4 linked regions of the Homo sapiens genome follow. The protein of the gene in region 2 interacts with the protein of the main gene of each other region in a pairwise test. Each region holds a gene or a part of one and is shown on either strand. Other genes may lie near its edges. The genes, in order: DBN1, CXCR4, MYH9 and ATP13A2.

What was found.
Region 1: the proteins of CXCR4 (region 2) and DBN1 interact in binary tests that used the Homo sapiens proteins (3 or more experiments, as listed by UniProt).
Region 3: the proteins of CXCR4 (region 2) and MYH9 interact in binary tests that used the Homo sapiens proteins (3 or more experiments, as listed by UniProt).
Region 4: the proteins of CXCR4 (region 2) and ATP13A2 interact in a two-hybrid assay, tested with the Homo sapiens proteins (one study listed by BioGRID and IntAct).

What each region holds. Positions count from the first base shown.
Region 1 is NC_000005.10:177,463,635-177,470,656, forward strand, and holds part of DBN1 (drebrin), read right to left. Parts: intron 5,266-7,022; coding exon 5,210-5,265; intron 4,587-5,209; coding exon 4,474-4,586; intron 4,184-4,473; coding exon 4,109-4,183; coding exon of another isoform or gene 3,994-4,108; coding exon 3,847-3,993; intron 3,699-3,846; coding exon 3,621-3,698; intron 3,429-3,620; coding exon 3,277-3,428; intron 3,202-3,276; coding exon 3,138-3,201; intron 1-3,137. UniProt on the Homo sapiens protein: Actin cytoskeleton-organizing protein that plays a role in the formation of cell projections. Required for actin polymerization at immunological synapses (IS) and for the recruitment of the chemokine receptor CXCR4 to IS.
Region 2 is NC_000002.12:136,115,128-136,122,205, forward strand, and holds the start of CXCR4 (C-X-C chemokine receptor type 4), read right to left. Parts: upstream 3,023-7,078; 5' UTR 2,934-3,022; coding exon 2,919-2,933; intron 2,743-2,918; exon of another isoform or gene 2,402-2,742; intron 1,847-2,401; exon of another isoform or gene 1,616-1,846; coding exon of another isoform or gene 1,349-1,615; intron 1,109-1,348; exon of another isoform or gene 813-1,108; coding exon of another isoform or gene 786-812; coding exon 1-785.
Region 3 is NC_000022.11:36,286,968-36,293,989, forward strand, and holds part of MYH9 (myosin-9), read right to left. Parts: intron 6,897-7,022; coding exon 6,792-6,896; intron 6,515-6,791; coding exon 6,362-6,514; intron 5,268-6,361; coding exon 5,019-5,267; intron 2,331-5,018; coding exon 2,118-2,330; intron 1,973-2,117; coding exon 1,760-1,972; intron 1,447-1,759; coding exon 1,285-1,446; intron 1-1,284. UniProt on the Homo sapiens protein: Cellular myosin that appears to play a role in cytokinesis, cell shape, and specialized functions such as secretion and capping. Required for cortical actin clearance prior to oocyte exocytosis. Promotes cell motility in conjunction with S100A4.
Region 4 is NC_000001.11:16,994,924-17,001,945, forward strand, and holds part of ATP13A2 (polyamine-transporting ATPase 13A2), read right to left. Parts: intron 5,612-7,022; coding exon 5,477-5,611; intron 5,390-5,476; coding exon 5,323-5,389; intron 5,220-5,322; coding exon 5,088-5,219; intron 2,253-5,087; coding exon 2,097-2,252; intron 1,574-2,096; coding exon 1,463-1,573; intron 1,378-1,462; coding exon 1,331-1,377; intron 1,242-1,330; coding exon 1,053-1,241; intron 1-1,052. UniProt on the Homo sapiens protein: ATPase which acts as a lysosomal polyamine exporter with high affinity for spermine. Also stimulates cellular uptake of polyamines and protects against polyamine toxicity.

The sequences.
Region 1 (7,022 bases), on a different chromosome or scaffold from region 2:
GGTACCACACTGACCTGCTAGAATGTCCACTGTCACTCTCACGTGAACTATACTTGAAGGGCCAGATGGGACTATAAAATAATGGTAAGCTCCTTCAGACTTTACCTGAAATGTTGATAACTGGTGAAAATAAATCAGCTCAGGGGGTTCACAACACTATTCTGTCTACCTGCATGTGTGTATGTTTGAAATGTTAGCAAAAAAATAAACTTTATCAGGGCTGGGTGCAGTGCACTTTGGGAGGCCGAGGTGGGAGGATCACCTGAGGTCAGGAGTTTGAGACCAGCCTGGCCAACATGGTGAAACCCTGTCTCTACTAAAAATACAAACATTAGCCGGGCATGGAGCCGTGCACCTGTAATCCCAGCTACTTGGGAGGCTGAGGCAGGAGAATCGCTTGAACCCAGGAGGCAGAGGTTGCAGTGAGCTGAGATGGCGCCATTGCACTCTAGCCTGGGGGACAAGAGTGAGACTTCATCTTAAAAAAGATAAATAAATAAAAATAAATAAATAAATAAATAAACTTTATCAGGCAGGGTGCGGTGGCTCACGCCTGTAATTCCAGGACTTTGGGAGGCCGAGACAGGTGGATCACGAGGTCAGGAGTTCGAGACCAGCCTGACCAACACGGTGAAACCCTGTCTCTACTAAAAATACAAAAATTAGCTGGGCATGGTGGTGCACGCCTGTAATCCCAGCTACTCAGGAGGCTGAGGCAAGAGAATCGCTTGAACCCAGGAGGCAGAGGTTGCAGTGAGCTGAGATTGTGCCATTGCACTCCAGCCTGGGCGACAGAGCAAGACTCTGTCTCAAAAAAATAAAAATAAATAAATAAATAAACTTGGCTGGGTGAGGTGGCTCACACCTGTAATTCCAGCACTTTGGGAGGCCGAGGAGGGCAGATCATGAGGTTAAGAGATCGAGACCATCCTGGCCAACATGGTGAAACCCCATCTCTACTAAAAAGACAATAAATAAATAAATAAATAAATAAATAAATAAATAAATAAATAATAAACTTTATCTGCTGGGTGCGGTGGCTCATGCCTGTAATCCCGGCACTTTGTGAGGCCGGCGGGTGGATCACCTGAGGTCAGGAGTTCAAGATCAGCTTGGCCAACATGGTGAAACCCCATCTCTACTAAAAATACAAAAATTAGCCAGGCGTGGTGGTGGGCGCCTGTAATCCCAGCTACTTGGGAGGCTGAGGCAGGAAAATCACTTAAACCTGGGAGGCAGGCCGGGTGCAGTGGCTCACGCCTGTAATCCCAGCACTTTGGGTGGCTGAGGTGGGCAGATCATGAGGTCAGGAGATCGAGACCACCCTGGCTAACATGGTGAAACCCCGTCTCTACTAAAAATACAAAAAATTAGCCGGACGTGGTGGCGGGCACCTGTAGTCCCAGCTACTTGGAGGCTGAGGCAGGAGAATGGTGTGAACCTGGGAGGCGGAGCTGGCAGTGAGCTGAGATGGCGCCACTGCACTCCGGCCTGGGCGACAGAGCGAGATTCCGTCTCAAAAAAATTTAAAAAATAAAAAAATTTTAAAAAACCTCACTCTGAAAGGATAAATAAAATGTGGTATATCCATACAATGGAATATGATTCAGCCTTCAAAAAGAAGGAAATTCTGATGCATGCTACAACATGGATGAATCTTAAGGACATCATGCTAAGTGAAATAAGCCACACGCAAAAGGACAAACACCGTGCGATTCCACTGATAGGCAGTCTCCAGAGTAGTCAACTTCATAGAGACAGAAAGTGGAATGGTCGTTGCCAGGAGCTGGCGAGTGGGGAAGGGCAGAATTTGTGTTTAATGGATGGTGGTGGTGGTTATCCTACAATGTGAATGAATTTAATGCCGCTTAATGAAATGCAGATTTTAAAATGACTGAAATGGTACATTTTATGTATTTTGCCACAGTTACATACATGTGGCCAGGCGCGGTGGCTCACGTCTATAATCCCAGCACTTTGGGAGGCCGAGGCGGGCAGATCAACCGAGGTCAGGAGTTCAAGACCATCCTGGCCAACATGGTGAAACCCAGTCTCTACAAAAACACAAAAATTAGCTAGGCATGATGGTGTGCGCCTGTAATCCCAGCTACTCAGGAGGCTGAGGCGGGAGAATCGCTTGAACCTGGGAGATGGAGGTTGCAGTGAGCCAAGATCACGCCATTGCATTCTACCCTGGGCGACAGAGTGAGACTCCATCTCAAAAAAAAAAAAAAAAAATACATGAATCAACTTATGAAAAAAAGATCTTACCCAGCTCGTTCTCCACCATGTTCTTTATGTGGCAGGTGGCAGGTGTGTGTTGAATGAATGACTGAGGATGGAGCTTACCAGCCACACATCATCCCCACCCCATCCAAGGGCAGATGTGACTGGAGTGACTTAATGCTGCTGCCTGCAGGACTGTCTTGCCTCCTCTCTCTCAGCCTCCTGTGGGTGACTCCGGAGCCCGTTTGAGTCCCCACAGCCATGCATCTGCCCATTACAGTCCCAATCCAGATGAGTATCAACCCACCTCCCTTCCTGAACTGAGCCATGCTCAGTCCTGAATGACATTAGCTATTTCCAAAATACTAAATTCAAAGCATGGAGATGTGACTCTGCTGTGATTCTCAGGGACCAATCCACAGGACCTACGGGCCATTCCCAATGTGTGGAGATTCAGACAGTACCCCTGGAACAAAGGGGCTGCTCCCAGGGAGATGCTGCTCCCAAGGAGATGGTACACACTGCCTGCAGATGCTCAGCACTGGCCCAGGCTCACCCATGCCGCCTGCCTCACTCCTGTGGCCCCTCAGAGTGCAGAACAGTGTCTAATCGCCGAGAAACCCCAGGGCAGGGGAGGGGGAGCCTGGTCAGTGAGGGTCTGGGTCTAGATGGAGTTTCTCTTCCAATCTAGAGCACAAGCTTCTCCAAAGTAGTCTTTTTCCACGGCCAGAGGCCAGAGCCCCACGTGATGAGGTGCCAGGCCTCATGCTCCATGGCACCCTGTGCCCATGCAGCTCCCCAGAACAGCCACCACTGTCCCTGAGCCACTGATCTCCCCACAAGGCCCAGGAACACAGGGACCATTCTCACTTCCCTGACCCAGAGACCGGGAGCCTTGGCAAAGAACTTACAAAGATAGACTGCTCCTTCAACCGCCTCTTGGCCTCTTCCGCTTCTAAAGTCTGCTGTTTCCTCCTGGAACGATAAGCAGCCAGCACCCGTCAGGGTGCGCCCGGGGGCCCCTGGAGCGCTCCGGGCGGGCAGGCTCACCTGTGCTCCTCGATCTGCTGCTCCCGCTCCCGGTAGCGCCGCTCGCGCTCCTCTTGCTCCTGCCGCTCCTGCTCCATCCGCTCCTGCTCGAACCTGAGCCTCTCATCCAGGGCCTTCTTCCGCTCCTCCTCCTTCCGCAGCTCTTCTTCCTTCTGCAAGCCCCGGTGCGAACAAGGGTAGGCCCCGAGCCTAGGCGCCTGGACCCTGCCCCTCCAGCCCCTCCCTAACCCAGCGCTGGGGGCGGGGCACGTGGCATGGGCCATGCCACTGCAGTGAGGGACTCAGACCTGCCCCATGGGGTCCATGAGGGGTGGCTCAGCCAGGCCGGGCTCAGGGTTCCATACCTTGGCCTGCTCCCAGAACTGCTCTCGGTTAATCCGCTTCATTTCCACAGCTGCATCCGTCTTCTGGTAGGTGGTGCCCTGCAGTGTCGAAGGACCCAGCATAAGCAGGCTGAATGCCCCAGGAACCCCCGACACCTAAAGGGTGAGAGCTAAGAGGGACCGGGCAGGCCAGACTCGGGCACCAGGCCACGCAGGCAGAGCCCACGGGTGCCAAACACACACTAACCACGGGCTCTGCGTTCTCATCCTCTCGCAGCCGCAGTCGGTGCAGCACAGGGCTGGAGAGTCGCGCCAGCCCGTTAGAGAGCCGCTGCCCGATGGCACCCGCGTCTATGTCTTCCACGCTGCTGGCGTTCACGATCACGTCGACACCCTTCCGCAAGAAGACGGCAGTGCTCAGGCGGCACCATCCTCCCGCCATCCCCACCCCAGCACGCAGACCCTGGTGGCTGTCCCCACCCCCAAGAGCGCTGGCCCCTGACACGCACCTGGAAGAACTCCGCCACCTTAGCCACGTGGCTGGCACAAGCGCACTTGCGGGCATCAGGCACATCTTCGCCCACCTGCAAAGTACCCAGCAAAGAGGGGGTCAGGAAAGGACAAGGGGGGCCCTACACGATAGGGTGCATCTTCCCCGGGGTGGGAAGAGGGTGGGCTTCCCTCTCCACGGGTGTCAGAGGGCCGACGGGGAGGGCGACTGCTCTGGGCCTTCAGTTCCCTTCCCCAGCCCCGGCCGCATACCCAGTTGATGAGCAGCTCTGGGCCCTCAGCCCCCTTCCCCAGCCCCGGCCGCATACCCAGTTGATGAGCAGCTCTGGGCCCTCAGCCCCCTTCCCCAGCCCCGGCCGCATACCCAGTTGATGAGCACGTATTTTGGCAGAGCAGCTTGGGAGTCCTTGACACTGCAGAAGCCGTACATCACCTTCTGGTTCTCAAAGTGTCCCGAAAGCTCCTGCAAGCCCCCTTCTAGGGTAATCAGGAGAGTGTCAGGTCTCTCTGCCTCCTAAACCCTTCCCAAAAAGAGCCTGGAACTCAAAGCAAAGACTCCTCCAGGCCTCCACAGGCACCCCCAGGGGTCTTCTGGCCTCTGGGGTCTGTGGGTCCCAGTTTTGTGTTGGTATGTGTGGGGGTGGTGGCGCACAGGGATGTAGCTTTGCCTGTGACTCCTGCAGGGCCTGATTTGGGGGTAGGACTGAGGAAGTGTTTGTTCTTCACACTCAGGTCTCATTCTTCACACATCATCATGTCTCACCAGGTGCCAGTGCCCAGAGGCACAATCAAGCCTTCTGGCTCTGGGGAAGGCGGTGAATAGGGCCCTTCCCCCAAAGTGTCCCAGCTGTGTGGCTTCAGATAAGTCACTTTCCCTGTTGGAGGCTCAGCCTCAGAAGTCCAACATTCAACAAGGCTCTGAGATTCCTCCCCACCCTGGGGACACAGGGATGACTGGAGGAAGGACACCCGCCAGATCCAGACAAGTGTGGGGCTGCAGGGTGCAGGCAGGGAGGTGGCCTACAGCCAGGTGGGTGGGGAAGAAAACAACCAGGAGGAGGGGGTGGAGAAGGCGGCGAGGGAATGGCTGGAATTCCTACCTCCTGATGCTGCAAGCTTGAGGTCATCGGAGCCATCTTCATATGTGTACAGAGCCCTGGGGAGAGGGAGGGGTGGCTGTCAAACTGTCAGGGCCCAGGCCGCCAATTCTGGGTGGGGACGGCTCTGGGGAGGGAGAGGGACATGGAGTGGGTAGGACAGGAACGGGGAGGGCTCCTGCTGTAGCCATGACAACAGGGCCAGGCATCGGTTCAGGCGGGAGCCCAGCAGGGTACTGCTGGAGGCCTGGGTCAGGGGGGCGCAGGCAGTGAGGGGAGAAATTGCTGGCTGGTCGAGCTCAGTGCGCAGCATCCCGGCCCTGGCCCTGGCAGCCTACAACCCAGTGGAGCGGGTGTGTGATGGAGATTCCAAGGCGACGGTTCCTTGGTTACCGTTCCCTGGCTACCAGGATCCTCATCCCCCATTGGCTAGTGCCAGGAACTTACCTGGCACGTGCCTTGGTCCCCGCTGCCCCTCCCCCGGGGAGGGAGGAGGAGAAGAGAGAACCTGGTGCTCCCAACAGCTCTGGGCATCCCCCAGTAACCATGGCAACCCTGCAATTGGCACACGACTGGCCCACCCCAACTGCATTCTCCTTGAACACAAAGGACCCTGGGGACCCGCCCTCAGCCTCAATCTCCGCCTCTCTGAAATGGGGATGAGGTCACTGCAGTCACTCTCGCCCAGACTCTGGCCCCGGGGTGGCCAAGCCTGAGCTCCAGGCCTTCCAGCCCCTAGGCTGCCTCAGTCCTGGCTGAGGCTTCCTGAGACTGCTGGCCTTTCCTTCTGTCTGAGCTCTAACAGAAAGCTGACCTGGTGGCCTTCCTCCTTCCTCCTCCTCCCTAGCTTTGTGTGCCCTGGCTCCTTTTGATAGGCTGCGGTGACAGAGCAACCATTGCACAGAAGGGAAGGCAGAGATGCCTCCTCCATCACCCCATGCAGGCCCAGGCTGAGGACCCTCTGGGAGGGAGGAGAGCCGGGGCCTAGGAGGAAGGGCCTTGTCCCTGAAGTTTGAAAGGGCTCTCAACCCCTTCTCCAAACTCCTATTCCCCAGGTGCCAAGGCAGGAGGCTGGGGCTGTGAGGAGGGGAGGCAGAAAGGGAGGGCAAGGGAGAAGAGAAAGAGGAGGGGAGAAGCAGAGGGAGAAACCAGGAGAGGAGGAAGAAGAGAAAGGACAGAAGTGAAGGGACAAAGGAAATGAAGGCGGGAGGGATGGAGGGGACGTCTCAGGAGGTTGTGGCCAGGGCCAAATGGCCTCAGCCCCTCCCCTTCCTGGATTCCCGGCTTCCTACCTCCAGGAAGGAACACAGGTGGGCTGTGGGGCTGGGAGCTCCTGGTCCAACTGTTACCCCCAGCCCCAGCCTGGCCCTGACAGATGCTTCCAGCACAGCTGGCCCACCACCTGTCCTGCTGCCCTAACCCACCACGGGAACAAAGGGCCCTGGGAGAAGCAGGCTCTGTCTCTCTCCATGCACTGATGAGAAACTAATGCAGAGCCCAGGGACCCTAGTTCCTAGAGACTGCTGTAGACATCAAGCCTCCCTCTGAGAGGACCTGTCTTGGCCTGCCTAGGCTCCCCGGGGTGCCTTCCATCCTCAGCCCCTGGCTCCCCACCTCCGGCCACCTCTTCCTGCTCCAGCCGCAGCTCTCCCCCAGCAGAAACCATACCCCAGTTCAAACCCTCCAGCCTGCCTTTCCATTGGACCACCCTGTCCACACCACACACTTGGGACACACTGGACGGCTCCCTGACCCAAGCAGGGTTCTGGACAGGGCTCACCCTGAAGCCTCTGCCTATGTAGTTCTCTTCACGTGG
Region 2 (7,078 bases):
AGGAGGATGAAGGAGTCGATGCTGATCCCAATGTAGTAAGGCAGCCAACAGGCGAAGAAAGCCAGGATGAGGATGACTGTGGTCTTGAGGGCCTTGCGCTTCTGGTGGCCCTTGGAGTGTGACAGCTTGGAGATGATAATGCAATAGCAGGACAGGATGACAATACCAGGCAGGATAAGGCCAACCATGATGTGCTGAAACTGGAACACAACCACCCACAAGTCATTGGGGTAGAAGCGGTCACAGATATATCTGTCATCTGCCTCACTGACGTTGGCAAAGATGAAGTCGGGAATAGTCAGCAGGAGGGCAGGGATCCAGACGCCAACATAGACCACCTTTTCAGCCAACAGCTTCCTTGGCCTCTGACTGTTGGTGGCGTGGACGATGGCCAGGTAGCGGTCCAGACTGATGAAGGCCAGGATGAGGACACTGCTGTAGAGGTTGACTGTGTAGATGACATGGACTGCCTTGCATAGGAAGTTCCCAAAGTACCAGTTTGCCACGGCATCAACTGCCCAGAAGGGAAGCGTGATGACAAAGAGGAGGTCGGCCACTGACAGGTGCAGCCTGTACTTGTCCGTCATGCTTCTCAGTTTCTTCTGGTAACCCATGACCAGGATGACCAATCCATTGCCCACAATGCCAGTTAAGAAGATGATGGAGTAGATGGTGGGCAGGAAGATTTTATTGAAATTAGCATTTTCTTCACGGAAACAGGGTTCCTTCATGGAGTCATAGTCCCCTGAGCCCATTTCCTCGGTGTAGTTATCTGAAGTGTATATCTGCAAAAGAGGCAAAGGAATGGACATTCACTTCCAATTCAGCAAGCATTAACCCAGTTAAAAAAAATTTTTAAAGCAATTTAAAAAACCAATTCAGGCTTGCTTTCTTCAGGAAATTCTGAAGTAGTGGGCTAAGGGCACAAGAGAATTAATGTAGAATCCTACAACTCTCCTCCCCATCTTTTCCCATAGTGACTTCATTATATCCTTCTTTGGTAGAACCAATTACAAAATTCTTTGTTTAGAACAAAAGGGCACTGAGACGCTGAGGGTTTCAAAGTCACATCTTGGCTAACTCCTCTGCCCCGCCCACTAGAGGGAAGAAAAAAAACCTTCCTTAGGAGGAAAAAAAAAATACACACAAAGAGGCCACTCCCAGGCGGCGTGGGGGGTGGGGTGGGTGCTGCTAGGAGGGGCAGTGATTAACTTTTTGTAAGAAGTTTTTCGCCCAGGGAGGGAAGAGGGGAGAAGGGAGGATCACGGGGGGAGGGCGGGGGCGTTGCAAAGACTCATTCTCCTAAAGCGCAAAAACTTAATTTTCCCACGCCTGCCTAAATACAAACCATTCTGGGCTTCAAGCAACTTGTAGTGGGTAAAGAGAATGCGGTCTTAAAACGAAGGCCCTTCGGTGCTTGGGGTATATTGGGCGGGAGTGTCAGAAAATGAACAAACGGCACCTCCTCCCCCAAGCGGGCGCTCCTCCGGTGTGTGGGTCTCTTGCCATCCTCGTGTTTATCACTTGGCGCGTTTGGGACGTTAGGGAGCGGGGCATTTTCCTGGGTGGAGAAGGTAACGGGGTCTGCACCCGTGGTCCTCGCCCCAAGTTTCATTTCCTCACTCTCCCGGGTGGCTTCCCATTACCCCGCCACTGATCCAGTTAACCCGGCCGGAGGTGGGCAGCTGGAAGCCTCCAGGCGGTGGGCACGCGGGGGGCCGGGTCGTCCAGCCCCGGGCCGCCGCGGCTGCCCACTACACCCACGCCAACCGCCCGCAAGCAGCGCTGCAGGGGCTCCGCTGGGCGACACGCCAGGCTCTGTCCCACAGGGTGCTGGGGAGCGACTGGGCGGCTCCGCCGCGAGCGTCTTTGAATTGCGCGCCGCTGCAGGAAACCAAAAACTCCCTAGCAAGAGGGTTTCAAAAGGTTTCTGGAAACCACCGACGGTTAAACATCACAACTGGACTCGGAGAGAGCCAAACGGTTTCCCCACTTGCACCTGCCAGTCTTCGCGGCGGCGACCTGGCAGCCCAGGTGCGGTCTTAACCGCCCCCGCCCCTCACCCCGTACCCGCTCCTATCCCCGGAGCGCAAATCTCAGGGCTGGCAGCTGCGCGGTGTCAAAGGGGAGGTCAAACCACTCCGCTGACCTCTGCACGACCCCAAACTCTCGAACTGCAGGACCCACTCGCGGCCGTGGGGAAGAGGCGCGCTTCGGACGGCGGGAAGGTTTTCCCCCTCAAACCCAAAGCGCGCGGGCGGATCAACTCCTAGCTGCTGCCACCACTCGATCCCCTCAGAGGATCGGCGCGGTGGGTCCACCCGCCTCTCCCGCCCTCTGCCTACTGTGCTGGGAGACTGGCACAGCTCCGTCGGCCGCACAGAGTTTAACAAACACGCACCCAGTGTCAAGAACAGTCACCAGGCGCTTAACCCCGAAGTTAAAGCGGGCGCAATCTCCTCCTGGGAACTCAGCCCAGGCACGCCGCCCTCCGCCTCTAAATTCAGACAATGTAACTCGCTCCAAGACATCCCCGCTTCCCCAAGGAAGAGACCGGTGGTCTGAGTCCCGAGGCAGCGCGCACGCCTTCTCTGCACTTGTGCACAGAATGTTCTTACGTTTGCAAACAGCGTGCAAGCCGCCGCGCGCGGCGGGACTCAAGGGGGAGACACATGCAGCCACTGGAACGCTCTTTCCAGTCGTTTCTCCTCGACTCACAGAGAAAAAGATTCCAATCCTGCTCCCCCCCCACCCACCCGCACTATATAGGCATGGTCAAGAAAACTCCTTTCGGTGACCCTTTTTTGGAGTACGGGTACCTCCAATGTCCTGGCCGCTTCTGCCCGCTCGGAGAGGGGCTGCGCTCTAAGTTCAAACGTTTGTACATTTATGACAAAGCAGGTTGAAACTGGACTTACACTGATCCCCTCCATGGTAACCGCTGGTTCTCCAGATGCGGTGGCTACTGGAGCACTCAGGCCCTCGGCGTCACTTTGCTACCTGCTGCCGCAGCCAACAAACTGAAGTTTCTGGCCGCGGCCGGACTTTTATAAAAACACGCTCCGAGCGCGGCGCATGCGCCGCTGGGGCGGGGAGGGAGAAGGCGGGGTGGGGGAGAGGGGCAGACGCGAGGAAGGAGGGCGCAGGGGCGGGGCGGAGAGGTGCGCGGCTTGGGAAGCCCAGGGGACCCTGCTGTTTGCGGGTGGTCGGTAGTGAGTCCGGAGCCGGACAGGACCTCCCAGAGGCATTTCCTAAGTTTGAGGGAAGCGGGATGCGCCTGAAGACAGGTGGGAAGCGCGGGCTAGGAACGCGTCTCTCTGTGGCGCGTCCATCCTTGCTAAAGTGGATGGAATTCCAGACCTGGGAATGCTACAGTAGAGACACTGAGGCCCAGGGAAGGGGAGTGACTTGCTGGAGTAACCCAACCAGTAGGCGGCAATGCTGGAAGTAGGGCCAAGCTTCCAACGCCATTCCCCGCGCTTTCAGCAGACGCAGCCCATTCAGGAGGTAAAAGGAGTAAAGATCCTTCCTTCGGAGGATGTAGCTATACTTGCACATTCACAGCATCACTAGGGTCAGGTGCAGATAATTAGGAGATACTTTCAGAAGAAGGTAGGATTTGGCATAATTCTGGAGACTGATCAGATGTAGATATGTATTGCTCAGTAATTTCATAATAGCGGTAACCAATTCGCGAATAGTGCTTTATTATCCTAAAAGTATGCTTTATTATAAGAGTAATTTAGCGACCAGTACTTTTTGTAACAGATCACTAGGAACTTGCACAGAATCACTCATTCATTCTCACAACACCGTGTGGGTATTACCATCACAGAGATGCATTTAGTCCGATATTTATAGAAGGACGAACTGCGTGCCACGCACTGTTCTAGGCGTTGGGGATCCAGCGTGAACCAGACAAGGCCCGCATTCGGAGAAACCAGCAAATAAGCCCGGAGAGATGAAATGCCAGGGATGGGCAGGGATTCCAAGCCGGGCTTGAACCCAGGTCTTCGGTCCCCATACTCGGCGTCTTCCACGATTTTGAGCAGAGGACAAGCTTTGGCACGAATCAGAAATTAGGTTGAAGAACTGGGCGGGGCGGAGTGGGGGTGGGGGTCAGACGTTTAAAGCGATCTCAGACTGGCTGAGGTTTGCAGTGGGCGCGCAGACAGTGCTTTCCCCCTCGCGCCACTTCCCTCCGGCGCGGAGACTGGGTGGGGCGGGGGAGCGAGTGTGGGGCGGGGCCGAGAAACTGCGTCCGCAGGCGGGGTGGCCGCTGCGGAGATAGCTGGGACCGAGGCGCGTGCGTCGCGACACGGACCCCAGAGGCCCCCACCCCGAAATGGTCCCGAGGAGAGGGATTGCCCAGACTGCACTCTACACACGATCCCTCTTTTCTATATCAAAAGAGGAAACATTTCAGTCTGGAGTGTTCCAGAGGTAGTTCGGAGGCAGGGAACCTTTTCTCTACAGAGCATGACTTTCCCCCTTTGTCTGGGACCCCTCCCTAATGTTGGTGGTTAAAGGTTCTCATCTACTCTGCACTTTCACTGACACAGGAAAGATGATATCCGGGCCGGGAGATGGGACTCTCAGAAACGAACGAGTTAGGACACACACTAATGGCCAGATAAAATCAATTCTAATATTACATTTGTAGAATTAAAAAAAAAAAAAGAAACTCCAGGTTCTTGGAGGGTGGTGGCTGGAAGAGGTTTCGGAAGCTCCACGCCCCTTCTCACAGGCCTTGCATTACGTATCTCTTCATCTGTATCCTTTATAATATCCTTTATAATAAACGATAACGGTAAGAAATAAAAATGAAAATAAAACCGTAAAAACACTTTTACTTTTTTCGAATCTTTAATAAAACTTAAGGATCTTCATATTTTTATAGACACGGTAGATCCTATCTACTGAAGGTCTAGAATTTCAGAGCGTTTTCATGACTTGCTTTTCACAAAGCCTGGTAGTGGCAGAATCAGTATGTTTTATCCTGGACCGTAAGCTGCACCCTACCTCAAAACTCCTCCCTGCACGATGTCTAAAACCTGAAAGGTGAGATCTCCCAAATCTGTCCAAAAAGGGAAAGAGGAGAAAACTCGGAGCAAAATGGTTTGCATAATAAATATTTGTTGATTGTAGACAGACAAAAGAAAGCTCCTTCCTTTATCTGAAGACTCCTTTCAGATCTTTTTAGGGATCTCTACTAAAAGGAAGCAGATAATTAAAAGAACAATGAGATGCTATTTGGTGACTACCAAATTAGGCAAAAATCCATTTTTTTTCAAAGATAATATTTGGTCTCCGGATTTGAAAAGACCAGCTGTCTCTCGCTTGTCACTGATGGGAATGTGGCTTGGGACAGCCTCACTGGAAAGCATTTTCTATTCAGCAGGAACTTCAGAACAGTAACTCCACTCATAAAAACTTATGCCACAAAGGTATTTGTGGAAACATTTTTTTTTAAATAGTGAAATGTCTGAACATCCCTAAATAACCACTGTTAGTGGAATAGTTGACAAGATTTTGGTTCATCCACATCTGAAATTCCATATGGACATCGCGAATGTTATTTGTGAAGAATTTTTAGTGACATGGGGAAATACTTATGAAACATTAAGTGCAAAAGGCAGGATTCAGAATTGTGTATATAGTGTGATCTCAGTTATGTTAAAATATGCATTTGGAAAATATAGGGAGGAAAACCAAAATGTTTATAGGCGTTTTCCTTGGTGCAGAATTATATTTGATTTTTGCTTTCTTCCTGGGGTTTTTCTATGCTTTCCAGATTTTCTGTAATAGACATGAATCATTTTCATATTCATAAAAAAGCCAACAAATTGTATGACAAAAAGGGAATCAGAAGGCCTCCTTCATGTATGTTTCCACTTCTAAAGTATCTACTAAGATGTCAGACTTTTTTCACAATAGTCCTTTCCCCTTTCAAGGAAGGCTTGTTTTCCAATGGGCTAATCTTAAACTTCTATTTCCACTGGGCTACCTAAACCTTATTCTCAACTATTCTATGATGTTCTTTAAAAAACAAACAAAACTCAAGCATTTACTGAGCGCTTGTTATGTGCAACTGACCTCATATAATCCCCTCAATAACTCTACAAGGCAGGTGCCATTACTTTTATTACATGGTAAAGAAATTAGGGTCTGGAAAGATGAGGAACTGGCCTGTGACCCCGGAATGAGGATCTGCACCCAGTCTGTCTGGCTCTGAAGCCCAGGTCATTTGGCATTTACGTACATACTGCTTTGAGTGGCATCCCTTGTGATGTTACTCAACTTTTAAATGAGTATATGTCATACTCCTATCCCTCCAATATTTTAGGTTCCTTAAAGTGAATGCCCAGATATCCTCTATCCAGCTAGCCCATTGCTGAACAAATACTGGGCTCCTTAATCTTTTACTGAACCTTTCTTAAAAGAATGAATGACTTTCCTGTGTGGCTCTGGCAACAGAGTCAGGCTTAGGGGCTGTCAGGGATTTGGCAGGGTCCCCAACTTCTCAGGTTGGCTTTAGCCCAGGGAATAACTAGCCTTGGCCACAGTTTGGAGGGGATGCTTACAAATCCAGTGACACAGTGGCAAGCATCCTGCCACCTCCTGTTGCTCGCTCTGCAGCTGGTTGATTTGTGTGTGAGTGTGTGTATCTGTGTGTGTGTGATGAAAAGCTGTACTCTGTCCCTAAATTGGCTTCATGTTAGCTAGGCAGAAAGCTTAGGAACAGACCTTTTCCCAGTGGTGGATGGCAGGAGGTTAGAGAAAGGAGGAGGTGCCAGGAGGAGGTGGATGGCAGGAGGCATTAAAGGCCTTCAGAATACACAGGGTCTTCTGGTTCCTTCGCTGGCCCCTCTCCTGTCTCTAAAAAAATTGATCGCTTTTGTTTCTGAAAGAGGAAAAAAGTGCAAACTTCCTTGACAGTAGTAAGGGATACTTAGAGAAAGTTAATGTTTTCCTAAGTGATTAAAAAAAAAAAACAAAAACGGAGACTATTTCTCAAGGCGCAAGTAATTCTAACACAGGGTTACAAATCTCAAAGAGACAATGGTATCAAATGTCA
Region 3 (7,022 bases), on a different chromosome or scaffold from region 2:
ACTAACCGTGGTGACAGGGCAAAAAGGCAACTAAAGACAATCATCTGTGTATCCCACCCCGTAATGCACACTTTGACAGTGTTCGTCACCGTGGACGTGAGCCCAAGCTGAGCTTCATTTTCTACTTTCTGTCCCCTCCTGTGGGCCGGAAGCCAGTGCCCATGGTGCCACCCCTAATGCGCACCTGCCACTCAAAACCAGTGCCCAGCCTGCCGGTCCATCCCCACCACAGGCAGGAAACACCTTTCCTTTTGTTATTCTCCTGTTACTTCTTTTAACACTAAAGACCTTTGTCAAATAGCCTTTTTTTCCTTTTGCAGATAAATCCGAAATTGAGATTCCCCAAATCAAAGAGAGTGACTGGCTGTGTGCAGCCCGACCACACCAGTAAAAAAATGCCACCAGCAATCAGAGCATCTATGCCCACAACCTTGACCACAATGAAGTTTTAAAGTTTTTGTGGGTTTTTTTTTTACACTTAACATTTTTTTTTTGGCCGGGCGCAGTGGCTCATGCTTGTAATCCCAGCACTTTGGGAGGCCGAGGCGGGTGGATCACAAGGTCAGGAGATTGAGACCATCCTGGCTAACATGGTGAAACCCCGTCTCTACTAAAAATACAAAAATTAGCCGGGCGTGGCGGCGTGCGCCTGTAGTCCCAGCTGCTGGGGAGGCTGAGGCAGGAGAATGGCGTGAACCCGGGAGGCGGAGCTTGCAGCAAGCCGAGATCATGCCACTGCACTCCAGCCTGAGCGACAGAGCGAGACTCCGTCTCAAACAAACAAACAAAAAAAAATTTGTTAAACTAAGGTTATTCTTGTTACATGATATGGCGTATCAGAGCTGTTTTTACGTGTTAATTATTCTTTAATTATTAGTGAGGTGAAGATTTCCAAGTATGTGTCCCACACTCCGGGCTGCTTCTTGGAACCATCGCCCCAGAGCCCAGAAGGCTGAAGGGTGTCAGGACCCGGGTGATTCTGGAAGTCTGCATTAAGTGAGACCTTCTTGAACTCCACCCATGTCTAGGCTTGTACTTGTTTGCTTCTGTGTTTTATGTACCCAGTCATACACCGTTTTGCAAGTTTGCTGTTGGACTATCATGTTTCCACTCACCTCTGAGCCTCTGAGTCTCTGTCAGTGAGATGGGGCTGGAAGCACCCAGGACCTTCCCAGGAGGTGCCACCCTGCCAGGTTCCCGCCCTGGGCCGAGCCCTGGCACCTTCATATGTAGTTGGCTCAGTCGGGTGCCGCCCACCCTCACCTGGGCCCCGCCCACCCTTACCTGCAGCTTCCGCAGCTGTTTGATGGCTTCGTCCCGGTTCTTGTTGGCCGAGTCGATGTGCGCCTCCAGGTCCTTCAGGTCCATCTCCAGCTTCTTCCGGGCGGCCACTGCCATCGAGCGCTGCTTCCTCTCGTCCTCCAGCTCTGCCTCCATCTCCCGCACCTGGGGGAAGGAACATCAACAACTTGGGAAGCTGGACCCACTGGGAGACCCTGCCCTAGCTCTGAACTCAGGAGCCTCAGGCCAGTTCTGCAGGATCCATGGGGCCTCGGGAAACCAGTGGGGATTACTGACCATAAGAACTCTAAGAAAGTGAGTCACTGAACCCCGAGACAGGAGGCTAGAAAGAAGGAATATGGGAGGGGAGGCGTGGTCAAGGGGCCCTAACACAATCCAGGTGGAAGGAGAGAACAGAAGCCTGCGTGAAGCCAAGGCAGCCTTGGGCACCCATGGGGTAGCAGGAGGCCATGCACACCTGTCTGACCAGCTGCTTCTTCTTCTCCTCGCTCTGCTCGTCCCGGCCCTGCAGGTCCCGCTCGAACTGGGCCTTCATGGCCTGCAGGTTGACCTCCAACCGCAGCTTGGCATCTTCGGTGGCCTGCAGCTCGTCCTCCAGCTCTTCCAGCTGCGTCTTCATCTCCTCCACCTGCTGCTCTAGGGCCCGCTTGGACTTCTCCAGCTCGTGGACCTGAGCCCCAGAGAGCCCAAGTCAGGAGCAAAGGGACTGGCAGGTACCTGGGTCTGCGCGACCCGGAGTCTGTGCACACACCGACCCTCTGTGATGACCCCACTCGGGCCCTTCCCAAGACCTGGCTGCCAGGCCCAGGACTCACACTCTTGCCCACATCATCCTTGGAGCTCATAAGGTCCTCCATCTCCGTGCGGAACTGCTTGTTGAGCCGCTCCAGCTCCGCCTTCTGCTCCATGGCTTCCTCCAGGGCCCGGGCCAGCGACAGAGCCTTGGTCTCCTTCTCTCGGGCCTCCGCCTCAGCCCGGTCGCGCTCCTCTGCATACTTGGCAGAGATGGTCTTCTCCTCCGCCAGGAGCTGGGAAAGAGGTGGGCACCATGAGGCTCAGAGCTACGGCCCCCAGCAGGGCAGGGCAGCTGGGCCTAAGCTCCCTGGGGAAGGAGGAGCCCAGAGGCCACGGTGGAGAGGAGCAGGCCTAGGAAGCACAGGCCCAGGGCTGTGCCCAGGACAATACACACAGTCCCGTGCATCCTCATGATGGGATGACTGCCGACTGGAGCAGGCACTACTGCGAACACCATGTTGTAACGTCTGTTTAATTTTCATCACTTACTAATCGCAACCCTTTATGGCACGCTGCCCCTTCCATGAGAGCCCTCCAAACCTGTAAGAGCTTTGGTTCTCCTGAACCACAGCTGGCATTTGGTTGGCACTTTTCACGAAGTGAATGCCAAGCTGGCTGCCAAGAAGCCTGAACCCCATTTGTGGTCTTCTCTAATGACAGCTGCTGTCCCCTGGCATCTGTTCTCTGTGTGCACCCACCTGGCTCTATCCTATTTCCCCACCTTCCCTTCCTTTTGGCCCAAACCTTAATTATCCCATGGGTTGCTGACCATTTCCTAAAGGGCCAGATAGTGCATTCTTTAGAGTATGCAGGCCCTACAGTCTCTGCAGCAATGGCTCAACCCCACTACCACAGCACAAAGCAACCAGAGACAACATGAGAACCATGGAGCGTGGCTGTGTTCAGTCTATCGTTCCCTACAAAATGCAGGGGCCGGATCCGGCTACCACAGTTGGCTGCCCGATGTCTTCTACTGTTCTATCCTGCCCCCGAGTCCACATCCCCCTCAGCTGCTCTCAGATCTTTTGGAATAAGGAAGTGATATGAATGCATAAATAAATCGTTTAAAAGACAGTCAAACCGCAGGAGTTTGAGACCAGCCTGGGCGATATGGTGAGATCCCTGTCACTATGAAAAACATCTAAAAATTAGCTGGGTGTGGTGGTGGTGCACGCCTGTGGTCCCAGCCACTCAGGAAGCTGATGTGGGAGGATCACTTGAGCTGTGGTTGCACCACGGCACCCCAGCCTGGGCAACAGACAGAGACAGTCTCCAAAAAAAAAAAAAAAAAAAACCCAAACTATTTTAAAAAAACCCAAACTATAATTAAATAATTATAATAATGTAATGATATAATGATAATTAAAGTGATTTTAACTCAGTGCTCAATGGAGCCCAGGCTGGAGTGCAGTGGCGTGATCTCGGCTTGCTACAGCCTCCACCTCCCAGCCGCCTGCCTTGGCCTCCCAAAATGCCAAGATTGCAGCCTCTTCCCGGCCGCCACCCCATCTGGGAAGTGAGGAGCGTCTCTGCCTGGCCGCCCATCGTCTGGGATGTGAGGAGCCCCTCTGCCTGGCTGCCCAGTCTGGAAGGTGAGGGGTGTCTCTGCCCGGCCGCCATCCCATCTAGGAGGTGAGGAGCGCCTCTTCCCGGCCGCCATCACATCTAGGAAGTGAGGAGCGTCTCTGCCCGGCCGCCCATCGTCTGAGATGTGGGGAGCGCCTCTGCCCCGCCGCCCCGTCTGGGATGTGAGGAGTGCCTCTGCCCAGTGGCGACCCCGTCTGGGAGGTGAGGAGCATCTCTGCCCGGCCGCCCCGTCTGAGAAGTGAGGAGACCCTCTGCCTGGCAACCGCCCCGTCTGAGAGGTGAGGAGCCCCTCCGCCCTGCAGCCGCCCCGTCTGAGAGGTGAGGAGCCCCTCCGCCCGGCGGCCACCCCGTCTGGGAAGTGAGGAGCGTCTCCGCCCGGCAGCCACCCCATCCGGGAGGGAGGTGGGGGGGTCAGCCCCCCGCCAGGCCAGCCGCCCCGTCCGGGAGGTGAGGGGCGCCTCTGCCCGGCCGCCCCTACTGGTTAGTGAGGAGCCCCTCTGCCAGGCCACCACCCCGTCTGGGAGGTGTACCCAACAGCTCATTGATAGCGGGCCATGATGACAATGGCGGTTTTGTGGAATAGAAAGGGGGGAAAGGTGGGGAAAAGATTGAGAAATCGGATGGTTGCCGTGTCTGTGTAGAAAGAAGTATACATGGGAGACTTTTCATTTTGTTGTGTACAAGAAAAATTCTTCTGCCTTGGGATCTTGTTGATCTGTGACCTTACCCCCAACCCTGTGCTCTCTGAAACATGTGCTGTGTCCACTCAGGGTTAAATGGATTAAGGGCGGTGCAAGATGTGCTTTGTTAAACAGATGCTTGAAGGCAGCATGCTCTTAAGAGTCATCACCACTCCCTAATCTCAAGTACCCAGGGACACAAACACTGCGGAAGGCCAAAGGGTCCTCTGCCTAGGAAAACCGGAGACCTTTGTTCACTTGTTTATCTGCTGACCTTCCCTCCACTATTGTCCTATGACCCTGCCAAATCCCCCTCTGCGAGAAACACCCAAGAATGATCAATAAAAAAATTAAAAAAAAAAAAAAAAAAAAAAAGACAGTCAAACCAGTTCATTAGAGAAAATCTGAAAAATGTAAAAAATCAGAAAGGAAAAGTCACTCCTCAACCCATCGCATGAAGACGCCCTCTTCCGCTGGCCTTCTCCCTGGGACCCTCAACAAGCCAGAGCCTGAGGGTCCTCTAAGCACTGGCCCCGCACGGCCCCTCCCCGGCGAGACCCTGAGGGAGCCCAGGCTTTCTCTGATGGGCCCTTTGCTTTGGACTCAGTGCTTGAAGGAGAGGAAATGCAAAGGATGGGGCCAACGGCCACACACCTGGTCAAACTTCTTCTGCTTCTTCTCCAGGTTGCACGCGCTCTGGCGCTGGTGGTCCAGGTCCACCAGCAGGTCGTCCAGCTCCTGCTGCAGCCGCGTCTTGGTCTTCTCCAGCTTGTCGTAGGCGGCCACCTTCTCCTCGTGCCGCTGGCTCAGGCCCTCCAGGTCCTTCTGGAGCTTCCTCTTCACCTCCTCAGCAGTTTCCAGGCACCCCACACTGTCCTCCATCTTCTTTTTCATGTCGGCCACCTGGGCAGGAGCAAGGAGTAAGCAGATGCCCGAGATGGCACCTGCTCAGGTGGCACACCCGTCCCTGGGGCAGCTGGGAGCCTGCCTGCCACACCGTGGAAGGGGCACCAGGGATCTGCCCAGTTATGAAACCGCCTCCCCCAGTCACTTCCCTCTCCACAGGGGCGAGACAAATGGAGCTTCTGCAAAGGGGCATCTGTCTACTGTGTGAAGCCCGGGGGAGGCTGACCCCCAGGCCCGCTGTGGGGGCTCCCAGCCCACATCCACACCAAGCCTCTTGCTCTACGGAGACTGCTCCCAGAGAGCAGGGCCAGTGCCCTGTAGGGTGTCCACGGGGTCCCCATCACCCAGCCCCATCCTTGCACTTGGAGATAAACCCACAATCAGGCACGCTCGCGGGCTACTCCTACCCTGACTGTGGAATGGACTCCCAGCCCATCCCGAGGTGGTTCAGGCCTTCTGGCCTGGCACATGGAGGCCCAAGATAGGATCTAGAGCAGGGGCTCTGAAACCATATTAGGCTACGGACCCCTTCGCAGTCTAGAGAGGCCAAGGGACTCCTTCTCATGACAATGTTGTAACAGGCATGAAATAAACATGGGATCAGCAGGGCAACCAGTACAGAAAAATGCAGTTGTCACACATTCTAAAAAACCATGGCTCAGGAAGCCACGTGCTGCTAGATAGCACATCAGATAACAAACAGCGCAGGCCTGGGACCCATGAGGCCAAGGAGCTCGGCCACAACCCTGACAGGGTAACTGGCCATTTCTACAGATGATGACGGCACAGGGACTGCCACCACCATGGCTTGCTGCCTACATCCATAATGGAAGCAATGCTGAATTTCAGCTAAAGACTGGTGAAAATAAAGGTGTAAAATAGTGAAAATAGTGGTGTCCCCCATCTAAGTCCACAGATCCCTGGATTCCTTTCCTTGAGAGCACTGATGTGGGAGAGCACGGTTGGCTTCCCAGGGGGAGAGCAGCAATGGGCCGGCCCAGCGGGCAGGGCTGTCCTGCAGTGCCCAGGCCAGTGCCCGGCCAGCAGCTCCCCAGCCTGCAGAGTCCGGCCGGTCCCCCAGGCCTCCAAACCTGGGCATGGAGGGTGGCGATCTGCTTCTCCAGGTTGTGCTTGGCCTCCTCCTCCTCCTCCAGCTGCTCCCGGAAGGAATTCTTCTCGTCCTCCACCTGCTTGAGCTTGGTGCTCAGGCTCAGCTTCTGCCGGTTCTCCTCCTGCAGCAGCTCCTACTCGCGGGTTGAGAGGGGTGCGGGTGCTTAGGAGGGTGGTGTCCAAAACCCAGGAACCCCACACCCTTGAGGAGAGGGAGGAGCTGGTCCTGCTGATTTAGGGGATGGCCACGTAAAGACCTGGAGGGAGCTGGGAGGACGCAGAGACCCACCCACAGGATGAAGCAGATGAAGGAGAGGATGGGCAATCCGATGGGCTCTGAAGCTAATGTTGCGTGGACACAGAGGCCTTTCTGGAGGGGTCCACCTTCTGGGAACCTGGCGCCACCCCTACCTGAGTGTCCTGCAGCTGGGACTCCAGCGCGGAGAAGTCCTTGGTGAGCTTGCTGGACTTGCTGTCGGACTGGCTGAGAAGCCCGGTCACGTTGTCCAGCTCCACCTGCACCGGGCGGGGAGACACAAAGGACCATGGACCCACCCCCACTGCTCCTGCCCCACCTCATCTCCTTTAGGTAAAGCTGGACCTGAGTCACAAGCTGAACCATGAGGGTCTGAGGAGCCAGTT
Region 4 (7,022 bases), on a different chromosome or scaffold from region 2:
AGTGCCGGGATTCCAGGCATGAGCCACTGCGCTGGGCCCCCTCCCCAGTTTAAAAGCGCTCTGTGGCCCCCGACAGCCTCTGAATGTCACCTAGCCTCTGTCAACCAGGCCACTGCCTACCCGGCCCTGTCCTGCTCCACCACTCCCTGTGCTCAGGTACGCAGCACATCTGTGCCACGCCACTCCCTGTGCCCCAGGCACACGGTACATCTGTGCTATGACACTCCCACCTTTTACCCTTGCTTCTCCTCGACCTGCCCCTCACTGAGGTCACTGAGGGACCTGCTCAGGGGGCTTCCTTGACTGCCTTCTCTCTAAGGAAGTGTCCCCATCTAGAACCCATCAAGCTATCCCACTGGCTTCCTTCCTAAAACCCACTGCCCACTCCTCAGCCCCAGCAGCTCCTTTGTGCACTCCTGGATCACTTACTTTGGTGGGGGACACACACACTCCAGTGACCACAAGGATGCCTGTGTTGGTCACTGCTGGGCCCCAAGGGTTGGGAGCAGCACGGGATGCACACTAGGGCCCCAGGTCCCCACCAGTAATTTTTTTTTTTTTTTGAGTTTTGCTCTGTCACCCAGGCTGGAGTACAATGGCATGATCTTGGCTCACTGCAACCTCTGCGATTCTCCTGCCTCAGCCTCCCGAGTAGCTGGGATTACAAGCATGTGCCATCATGCCTGGCTAACTTTTGTATTTTTAGTAGACGGGGTTTTGCCATGTTGGTCAGGCTGGTCTTGAACTCCTGACCTCAAGTGATGTATCTGCCTCAGCCTCCCAAAGTGCTGGGATTACAGACGTGAGCCACCGCGCCCGGCCCCCCACCAGTTCTTGAACACATGAATACATGATTCTAGACATTTCATCTGCCAGACCGTGAGCCCAGTGAGGGCAGGAGTGGGATGGGGTGGATCCTCTGGGGGTTTCCATCCCTAGACAGGACCTGGCATCCTGTGGGTGCTGCTGAGAGAATAACGCGGGTGTGGAGGCCTCACTGGGGCGCCTGTGGCTGTCCCGCTCCCCTGCACCAACCCCACCTGCGGCCCCACCTTGTCGAAACACACCAGCTGCAGCTTGCCCCCCAGGTTGATGCGCAGTGGGTGGATGCAGAAAATGCCCTGTCTCCGCAGTCGGCTCTGGGCGTAGAGCGTGCACACAGTCATGGCAGCAGGCAGGGCAGGTGGCACCACCACGGTCACCAGGTCGAGAGCCCGGATTACAATCTCATTCAGAGGCACCTGGCAGGGGGCACCATGAATGTGAGCACCTGGCTGGTTGGCCCCTGGGCCCTGCTGGCAGCACCCCCCACCCCACCCCCAAGGCTTACCCGGTTTCGGTAGAGGATGAAGATGCTGTAGATGGTGCCGAGGAGAGCTGTGGGGACAGCGAAGGACTGAGTGGGATTTGGGACCCAGGTGGGGGGGGCTATGGGCAGAGGAGGGTGCAGGGGGCCACTCACCCAGGACAGAGAGGGCAGCCACAAACTTCATGCTGTGTTTATAGAACTTGAAGTTGATGGGCCGGGGGTGCAAGATGGAGCTCACCAGGCCCCCTTTTGCCGTGCAGAACCCTGGGGAGGAGGCGGGGACCCCAAGGCAGGGAAGCCAGGGTGAGGGCAGGCCTTCCCCACCCCTAGCCCTCCCGACCCGTGCCTCTGGAGTTGCAAGACATGATGTTTGTGAAATTAGCCATCAGCAGTGTGGAGTCCTAACAGGTCTGGCCCGGCTCTTGTAGGCTTTTTAAGGGCTTTAAACAAGGAACTAGTGGATAGCATCTAAACACTGGGTGGTTCCACTGAAAATCCAGACACAGGGAAGGCTCCTGCCTGCCCGCTACATCCCTGCCCGCTCCAGCACTGTAACCCCGGCGGCTCCTCCAGATCTTGCAATGCTTGGCCTTAGTCTGGCCCAACTTCTGCTAAGATGGGAATGCTCAGACCCCAGATGGGGGGCAACTGGCCCGAGGTCCCACAGCAGGGCAGCAGCAGAGGTGGGCGTGGGGTCCAGGGTTCCAGGTCCCACCCTGCCTCACTCCACCTCTCCCAAGGGTGCTGAGCCCGGGATCTCTCTCAAGCCCAGCCTCCCGGCTCATACCTGTGCGGGTCACCACTGCCAGGACGTGCGGTCCCACATAGGCCCGGGCCTGCAAGATGAGGGTCCCGCAGAAGAGTGTGTGCCGCCGGTGTGTCTCTGCACAGTAGGGCCCCAGCCCCTCCGGCAGTGCCGTCTTCAGCACTGGAATGCTCTCTCCTGGTGGGGAACGTGGTGTGAGGACCACTCCACACCCCTCCCTCCCACCAGCAAACCAGGAGTTCTGTGTAGAATTGTCCCACAAGCTCTAAGTCTCAGTTAACTCTGTAACCAGGTGTGAACAAGAAATCACAGCCCCATTTTACAGAGAGGAACACTGAGGCTCAGAGAGGACGGAGATATAAAGGCACAGGGAGACACTCCTGGAAGCAGGTGGCAGCCAGCTCCCTGGAACCAGCGGGGGGGGGTGGGTCAGACAGAGCATGTGTGGGCATCATGTGTGCAGTGGGGCAGGGTGGGGGAGTCGTTCTCTTTCTGCTGGAATTATTTTATAACATGCATGGAGTGCTTTTCTAACTCCAACCAACAGAAATATTTACAAGGGGCCAGATGCGGTGGCTCACGCCTGTAATCCCAACACTTTGGGAGGCTGAGGTGGGCAGATCACTTGAGGCCAGGAGTTCGGGACCAGGCTGGCCAACATGGTGAAACCCTGTCTCTACTAAAATACAAAAATTAGCCGGGTGTTGTGGTGGGCATCTGTAATCCCAGCTACTTGGGAGGCTAAGGCAGGGTAATAACTTGAACCAGAGAGGCGGAGGTTGCAGTGAGCCGAGATCGTGCCACTGCACTCCAGCCTGGACAACAGAGTGAAACTCTGTCTCAAAAGAGGAGGGGAGGGGAGGGGATGGGGTAAGGAAGGGGAGGGGGAAGGAGGAGGGGGAGGGGAGAGAAATATTTACATGGAGGGGGCAAATATTTCCATGAGTTGGAGTGAGAAAAGCACTGCATGCTCGCCATGGCCCTGTGAAGTCCTGGGCAGGCTGCCTAGCAAACAGTGGCACTCCCTTACTGAATGCCTGCAGGCTGGGACTATTGAGCACCTACTGTGTGCACATTCCTGCAAGGGAGTCAGACAATCCTGCCATGTCTGCCTCACAAGAGATGAGCAGATGAAGTATGTGTGGACAGTTTGTGGAGGGCAGGGCTCAGGGCGTGTGCCCACAAATCATACTGATCACAATTACTACTTTTTTTTTGTTTTCTGAGACGGAGTCTTACTCTGTCACCCAGGCTGGAGTGCAGTGGTGCGATCTCGGCTCACTGCAACCTCCACCTCCTAGGCTCAAACGATCCTCCCACCTCAGCCTCCCAAGTACCTGGGACGATAGACGTGCACCACTACACCTGGCTAATTTTTTGTATTTTTGGTAGAGATGGGGTTTCAACATGATTTCCAGGCTGTTTTCGAACTCCTCACCTCAGGCAATCCACCCACCTCTGCCTGCCAAAGTGTTGGGATTACAGGTGCGAGCCACTGCGCCTGGCCTACGATTTGTGATACAAATACAATGCCAGCCAGAAAACTTCCCTGGAAAAAAACCACTATCCTGTGGTTTTTAGTAAACTCTCTCCAGTATCTACCACCAAAATATAACACATCTCAGAGAAAGAAATACTTGCACACATCAAGAGACACAGGACAAAGCTGCTCCTGTGGCGTCCTTTGCAATGGCTGGAAAATCACATTCTAAATACTCATGGCGAGCGGGCCGGTTGAGTCAGTTACGATACATCCGTATTGTGGACTCTCATGCAGCCATGAGGTGGGGCCATCCGTGCTTGTGGAAGGATGCCAGGAGAAAAAGCAAAGTATGGAACAATACACAGCATACAATCCCACGTTCAGAACAAAAGGAGAGGCAAATCAGCCCATGTGCACACACGTAATGCAGAAAAAGGCGTGGAAGACACCTCACACCCTTCACAGTGGCTGCCCTGGGGAGGGGAAGGGAAGGGGACTGTGGGGTAGTGAATGGGGACCGCAGTCTCTCACTCTGGGAGAGGGCTTCCCACTCTCCTGTGCCATCTGGAATCTTTATGACCTGAAGGTGGGCACTGGTATAGAAACAGCTCAGATGCAGCCAGGTGCTATGGTTCATGCTTGTAATCCCAGCACTTTGGGAGGCTGGGGCGGGCAGATCACTTGAGGTCAGGAGTTCAAGACCAGTCTGACCAACGTGGTGAAACCCCATCTCAACTAAAAATACAAAATTAGCCGGGTATGGTGGCGCACACCTGTAATCCCAGGTACTTGGGTGGCTAAGGCAGGAGAATCGCTTGAACCCAGGAGGTGGAGGTTGCAGTGAGCTGAGATCGCACCATGGTACTCCAGCCGGGGCAACAAGAGTGAAACTCCATCTCAAAAAAAAAAAAAAAAAAAAAAAAAGGAGAAATAGCCCAGATGCACTGGGTGGCTGGCCATTTATGCTGCACCTCTCACGCTCCTAAGCACTTTGCACAACTCTGTCCAGGAGGAGTGACTGACAGCCATCTTACAGAAGAAGGAACTGAGGCACGGAGATGATACGTGGTAACGGCCCAGGGGTGTGAGGTTAGCAAGTCCTAAAGCTGGGATTGTTGCTTGAGAGAAAAAGGAAGAGGAGGCGGAGCGCTGGCACACGCCTGAAATCCCAGCACCTTGGGAGGCCGAGGTGGGCAGATAACCTGAGGTCAGGAGTTCAAGACCAGCCTGGGCAACATAGTGAAACTCCATCTCTACTAAAAATAAAAAATTAGCTGGGCGTGATGGTATGCACCTGTGGTCCCAGCTACTCAGGAGGCTGAGGCACAAGAATCACTTGAACCTGGGGGGTGGAGGCTGCAGTGAGCTGAGATCATGTCACTGCACTCCAGCCTGGACAACAGAGTGAAACTCCGTCTCACAAAAAAACAAAAAAGGAAAAGGAAACTCAAATGAAAACTTTTGCCGCAGGGCAAAGGGTTGGATGGCAGGGGAGGAAGGAAGCTGCAGGCCAGGGGCTGGGGGCTCACCTGTCAGAGAGCTCTCATTCACCATGCACTCGCCGGCCACCAGGGCGGCATCACAGGGCATCAGCCCACCCTCCTGGGGCAGCACCAGGCAGTCTCCGGGCACTAGCTCACTGGAGTCCACCCACTCTTCCTCTGCAGGCAGGCAGGAGAGGAGCTCAGCTAGGTGGGGCCAGCCCCAGCCATGCCCCCCCACCCTCCCACTCCTGCCCCCGCCCCCTGGGCCCTAGCTCCTCACCTCCCCCTGGCCGGCACACGCACACCCGCATGGACAACTTGACCATGTCCCTTAGAGTCTGGCTTTGCTGTGGGCAGGGGACAAGAGGGCCGTGAGTGGGTGGGGGCCCCTGGGGACCCACCTGTCCCGTCCCCACCCACCTTATGGCACTCACCTTTCTGGTCTTGTACAGCGACAGGCAGATGGAGATGGAGGAAATGAGGAAGATGCACAGGGCGTACCAGTAGTAGTGGTCAGCCAGCCACAGCGCGATGCTGAAGGCCTGGAACCCATAGTAGGGGTTCAGTGCCTGGGGGAGGGGCGGGAGGCAGCGTCAGGGCCGCGTCCCCCAGGGCAGCCCAGCCACAGGCTGGGTCTCCTGTGCCCATGGGAGCAGAGGGCCCAGTGGCTGCCAAAGGACTGGAGCCAGGCCTTTCTCCTGGTCAATCCCATCCCCACCCAACCAGACATCCCCAGGGCCCTCAGTTTCTCCGCTCTAAAGAGGACAAGGGTTTATGACCAGCCTGGGCAACATGGCGAAACCCCATATCTACAAAAAATACAAAAATTAGCCTGATGGGGTGGCCTGTGCCTACGCTCCCAGCTACTCAGGAGGCTGAGGTGGGAGGATCACTTAAGCTGGGGAGGTGGAGGGTGCAGTGAGCTGAGATCGCGCCACTGCACTCCAGCCTGAGTGACAGAGGGAGACCCTGTCTCAAAAAAAATAAACAAATAAATAAATAGGATAAGGGTATTTACTGAACCCCCACTACACGCCAAGTGCTTTATCTAAGTGTCATACAATGGCAATGACAATTCTACAAGGCCGGTACCACCATTAGCTCCATTCTACAGATGAGGAAACCAAGGCATGGACAGGTGAAGCCACTGGCCTAAAACCACATAGTTCCAGCCAGGTGCGGTGGCTCATGCCTATAATCCCAGCACTTTGCAAGGCCGAGGCAGGTGGGTCATCTGAGGTCAGGAGTTTGAGACCAGCCTAGCCAACATAGTGAATCCCCGTATCTACTAAAAATACAAAAAAAAAAAAAAATTAGCTGGGCGTGGTGGCAGGCGCCTGTAGTCCCAGCTATGTAGGAGGCTCAGGCAGGAGAATCACTTGAACCCAGGAGGTGGACATCGCAGTGAGCCGAGATCACGCCATTGCACTCCAGCCTGGGCAACAAGAGCAAAACTCTGTCTCAAAAAAAAAAACAACAAACAAAAAACAAAAAACCACATAGCTTCTAAGTGACAGACTGATTTCTATGGGGCCAGACTCAAAGATCTCTTTCATGGTGCCTGCCCCCGATCAGAGGGCTGGGATGTTCACACTTTATTCTAGTTGTGTCCAGGTCACTGGCTTCTCTTTGTCCCTGTGTGACCTTGGCCATGTCACAGCCTCCAACTGAAGCTTGGATTTCTCAGGTGTGAACAGTGCAGTCCCAGGCCCAACCCACGGGACTGTTGGGAGCATGAAAGTGGAGGACGCACAGAGAGGACCCAGGCTCTAGGGCGTGTCTCTGGGGACCCCATAGATGCTCAGGCTGCGTGGATTTGCCTCTTGGCCTCCAATCCCTATGAGTGGGGCCCCAATCTGTGACCCAAGCCTTGGGCAGAACCTCCAATTCCTGGACCTGGTCTCTCTGGCTAGGCTGACTGCGGCAGGTTCTGAGATGACGATCCACTATGGAGAAGGGGACAGCTGGTCTGGTTGCCAC